Linked DNA regions of Homo sapiens: region 1 is linked to region 2. The links come from fine-mapping of genetic effects on gene expression. Tissue or cell type: whole blood. Region 2 holds a variant in brackets; the other region holds the start of a gene. All regions are shown on one strand. Distances are between the middles of the regions.

Evidence for each region. PIP is the estimated chance that this variant, and not a neighbour inherited with it, causes the effect.
Region 1: NME8 starts here. The variant in region 2 is fine-mapped to the expression of NME8 in whole blood (TOPMed, PIP above 0.99).

The regions. Positions count from the first base shown.
Region 1 is chr7:37,847,110-37,849,609 of GRCh38, forward strand. It overlaps NME8 (NME/NM23 family member 8), which reads left to right and starts at 1,488. Exons shown (of 18, transcript NM_016616.5): 1 at 1,488-1,619; 2 at 1,715-1,947.
Region 2 is chr7:37,675,758-37,678,517 of GRCh38, forward strand. No RefSeq gene overlaps it. Among named protein-coding and RNA genes, the nearest start is that of GPR141, 6.6 kb to the right of the region's middle. The variant C/G (reference allele first, on the strand shown) is at 1,173.

The DNA of each region.
Region 1 (2,500 bases), 170 kb after region 2:
AGGAAAGTAAAGAGAAAAAGAACGAAAGAGAAAGAAAGAAAAAGAAGAGGAAGAAGAAGAAGAGGAAGAAGAAGAGGAAGAAGAAGAAGAAGAAGAAGAAGAAGAAGAAGAAGGAGACGGAGGAGACGGAGGAGACGGAGGAGACGGAGGAGGAGGAGGAGAAGGAGGGGAAGAGGAAGGAGAAGAGGAAGGAGAAGAGGAAGGAGAAGGAGAAGAAGAAGAAGACGAAGGAGACGAAGGACACGGAGGAGACGGAGGAGACAGAGGAGACAGAGGAGGAGGAGGAGAAGGAGGGGAAGAGGAAGGAGAAGAGGAAGGAGAAGAGGAAGGAGAAGTGGAAGGAGAAGAGGAAGGAGAAGGAGGAGGAGGAGAAGAAGAGGAAGAGGAAGAGGAAGAAGAAGAAAGAAGAAGAAGAAAGAAGAAGAAGAAGGAGAAAGAAGAAGGAGAAGGAGAAGGAGATGGAGGAGACGGAGGAGGAGGAGAAGGAGGGGAAGAGGAAGGAGAAGAGGAAGGAGAAGGAGAAGGAGAAGAAGAAGAAGAAGAAGGAGATGAAGGAGATGGAGGAGACGGAGGAGACGGAGGAGGAGGAGGAGAAGGAGGGGAAGGGGAAGGAGAAGAGGAAGGAGAAGTGGAAGGAGAAGAGGAAGGAGAAGAGGAAGGAGAAGGAGAAGGAGGAGGAGAAGAAGAGGAAGAGGAAGAAGAAGAAGAAAGAAGGAGAAGAAGAAGAAGAGGAAGAAGAAGAAGAAAGAAGAGGAAGAAGAAGAAAGAAGAGGAAGAGGAAGAGGAAGAAGAGGAAGAGGAAGAAGAAGAGGAAGAAGAAGAAGAGGAAGAGGAGGAAGAAGAGGAGGAGGAGGAGGAGGAAGAGGAGGAAGAGGAGGAGGAGGAGGAAGAGGGAGAGGAAGAAGAGGAAGAGGAAGAGGAAGAAGAAGAGAAAGAAGAAGAAGAAAAAGAAGAAGGAAGAAGAAGAAAGAAGAAGAAGAAAAGAAGAAGAAAAGAAGAAGAAGAAGAAAAGAAGAAGAAAAGAAGAAGGAAGACGAAGAAGAAGAGGAAGAGGAAGAGAGAAGAAAGAAGAAGAAGAAGAAGAAGAAGAGAAGAAGAAGAAGAAGAAGAAGAAGAAGAAGAAGAAGAAGAAGAAGGAAGAAGAAGAAGAAGAAGAAGAAGAAGAAGAAGAAGAACAAGAAGAAGAAGAAGAAGAAGAAGAAGAAGAAGAAGAAGAAGAAGAAGAAGAAGAAGAAGAAGAAGAACAAGAAGAACAAGAAGAACCAAACCAGGGTAGATGAAGACAAAGTTAAAAAGAAAGAAAAGGCTGGTGCTGGCAGAGAGCCTTCTGCTCCGATTTGAGGTGTATGCATTTTATGCTGTAAAGCGTGGCCAGTCACAGGAGGATTCAAAGGCGAGGAGAGATATGATCAAATCTGCACTTGGGAAAGCGCACCTTGGTGCGCATCTGGGGATAGAGGAACGTAGGGATGGGAGGATGGGGGATGGGAGTTTGGGGATGAGGCAGCTGAAGAACAGAGTCTTGTGATGGTGGAACCAGGACTTCGTTGTTCCTTCATTGTGTGGGCAGAAGAGGTGGAGGATTTTAGGCGCCACCTGGTCTTGTCCCCACTGCCCAGGTATAGCTGCTGTCTGGAGCAGGGGCCTCGAGACGCCGCTCAAGTCTCACGGGCAGATGGGTTGGACAAAACATTGCCCCCCTTCTTCTTCCCAGACAGGCAGGGAATCCCTCTTCTTCCTTTTGCTGAATCAGCTGGAGAAGAAAGCCCAGCAGGAGGCCTGCTAGCCTCAGCCTCGGGCCCTACCAGGGTCCTAGGTACTGGAATGGAACTTCGCCGAGGTCACCGCTCAAACGGCCACAACGAGGGAGCCGATTTAGATCCTCTGGGCCTGTTCCTTCCTTTTCTTTAAACGTCCCAGTCTAGCTTAGAGGAGGACCTGTTTTGTGTAAGGCTTGCCGGAGCAACCAGCACCTTTCCTGGAATACAGTCTTGTTTGTGGCTTTTCCTTTGTTGTACGCTAGCGTGCACTATCGCCCGCACGCTGACTGACCCCTGTTCTACACCGCCCCTGATACCACTGAATAGGGAGTTTGAGAAGTTTATGTCGTGCCCCAGAAAACACTAGTGGCCTTGTTCTCAAGATTAAATATCCTTAGAGCAGCCAGATCTGAAGAGGGACCCCAGAAAGATCCACGGGCATGTTCATTTGTTTGCAATTGATAATATAGGAAACACTTTCTAATATTTCAGGAAAACAAAACCTTTAAAAAAACCAGACGACGTGTAACTCCTAACATTCTTACCTTGCTTCAGGACTGTTGGGAGGATAAGATAGTGTGGCAGCTATAAGCATTTAGCATAGAGCCTAGCATACAATAGTCCTTCCATGACATTAGCTTCTCTCTCCCCAGCAAAGATGACACTGCATAATCCAATGTACAGTGGGGAAATTTTTCACTAGTACATTAAGATGTTATTTGCAGTTAGAAAGAATGAAT
Region 2 (2,760 bases):
TGGAACTGTGAAAATAATTAGTGTCAAATCACCTGTACCAGTAAATTTTTAGTGTGGAACATTTAAAAATGAACTTTTATTATTTAAGTATATTGTTTACACAGAAAAATGCACAAATCACAGAGTGCAACCAGATGAGTTATCACAATGTCAGCACATTTGAGTGCTCGCCACCCAGATCAAGAGATAGCAGGGAAGTACCCCTTCTTCCCCTAATTGCTCCCACTCCTCCCATGCCTTCAGTGGTAACCACTGGCAGGGCTTGCAACATCATAGATCAGTTTTCCCTGTATTTAAACTTCATATAAATGTAACCACACAGTGAATTCTTTGTTTTTGGCTTCTTTTCTCAATACTATGTTTGTGAAATGCATCTATGTTTTTGCATGTAACATTATTTCATTCATTTTCATTGTTAAAGAGCAACTACGCGTCCATATTTTTTTTAAAAAAGAATACATTTTATTGTTAAGCCACATCAAGGATTATTTCCAGATTTTGACTACTGTGCTTTTTTCTGTTATGAACATTCTTGTAGTATTTTTGGCACATATACATATGCATTTTCTGTTGGGTACATATCTAATAATGAAATTGCTGCATCATGAGACAAAGGAATGTTGAGCTTGAGAAGTAAAGCTTTAGCTGTACCACTAGCAGCGTATGCAAATTCTATTTGCTCCACATCCTCCTCAATACTTGGTATTGTGGTTTTTTTAATTTTAGCCATTTGGTATATATTTAGTGGTATTCCATGGCTGTTTTTAATTATCATTTACCAAGTGACTAATTTAGATGAGTAACATCGCCTGTACTTATGAGAAAACCTTCTTTTGCAAATTGCTTATCCAGGTATTTTGTATGTACTAATTTTATTATATTATCTATCTTTTTTCTCATTTATACATATTTGATATGAATCTTTGGTCAGTTATATGAACTACAAATATCTGCTTTCATTCCATGGTTTCTCTTTTTACTGTCTTGATATCTTTGATGAGTATAAAGTCTTATTTTAAAGTAGTTTGACTCAGTCTCCTTTTTAGTGATTAGTGAGTTTTGTATTCTTAAAAAATTTTTCCTATACTCCAAGGTAAAGAAGATAATCTTTGTTATCTTCTAGAAGCCTTATTGTCTCACTTTTCACATTTAGGTCAACAATCTATCTGGAA[C/G]TGATTTTTTGCAAATAATGTGAGGTAGAAACTCAAGATTCATTTTTCCCCCTGATTTGAATGTTTAATCGACCCAACATCATTTATTAAAAAGACTTCCTTCCTTCTTTCCTTCCTTCCTTCCTTCCTTCCTTCCTTCCTTCTCTCCCTCCCTCTCTCCCTGTCTTTCTTTCTTTCCCTCTTTCTTCTCTTCTTCTTCCCCACTGCTTTACATTGCCACCGTTTTTGTAAATAAGTGTTCATCTATGCGTGTGGATCATTTGCTGGACTCTATACTATATTTCTTTATGATTGTGCTAATACCATGCAGTTTTAATAATTTTAGCTTTAAAATAAATCTTGGTATCTGGTAATTCAGTCTTTCAAATATTTTAATTTTCTTCCATTTTCTTGGACATTTAAGGCGCTTTACATTGCCATATAAATTTTTGGATTTACTTGTTAATTTTCACAAAATCATTTATTTGGGTTTTTATTAGGAATATATTGAACATAGGTAGTTTTGGGGAAGCACTGCTATCTTCACAATATTGAACCTTTTTATGTGAAAGTAATGCATAGTCTTCCACCCACTGAGATCTTTGTTAATTTCTCTCAATATTTTATATTATTCTACATTGAAGACTTGCTTATCTACTGTTAAATTTATTCCTAGGCATTGAAGTTTTTTCATTTTGATGCTAATTAAAATGGTATTATTTAAAAAAATTGTATTATTTGCTTCTTTGTTGCAAGTGTGAAATGCAATTGATTTTTGAAAATTAATATGTAACTTTTGGCTTTACAATAGTTAACAAATTTATTCTATAAGTCTATCTATGGAGTCTTTGTATTTTATATGTATAAAATAATGTCCCTTGGAAATAAAGATTGTGTTATTTCTTTCTTTCCAATATTTATACCTTTTATTAATTATTTTGCCTCACTGCATTCTGTTAGGATCCAATAAAACATCTTTAGTAAGAGTGGCAACAGATGGCATCCTTGACTTATACTTGCTACCAGGAGGAAAGCATTCAATATTTTCCCATTAAAGCAGGTCGTTTGCTGTAGGATTTTGTATGTATCCATCTATTCTTCATTTGTAGGTGCCTTTTAAAAAATCATGGATGGATGTTGAATTTTATCACGATTTTTCTGCCTCTGTTTGAGAAGATCCTATGATTTTTCTCCTCTATTTTGCCTAGGTGGTGAATTGCACTCACTGATTTTTACATGTGTTGTCTTCTTGGAATAATTCTCGCCTGACCATAATGCCATGCCTTAGTGTGTGTGTGTGTGTGTGTGTGTGTGTGTGTGTGTGTGTTTTCTGAGTCAGGTCTCATTCTGTTGCTCAGGCTGTAGTGCAGTGACTTGATCATAGTTCACTGCAGTGTTGAACTCCTGGGCTCTTGCTTTGACCTCCCAAAATGCTGGCATTACAGACTTGAGCCACCATGCCCAGCTATAATTTATATATATGTATCACTAGATTTTATTTGCTAATATTTTGTTTACGAGTTTTGTGTCTATATAAATCAGAGTAGACTTTGCTTAGGTCCTTTATTATAATTTCCTCACTGGATTTTGCTATCAAAGTTACGATAAC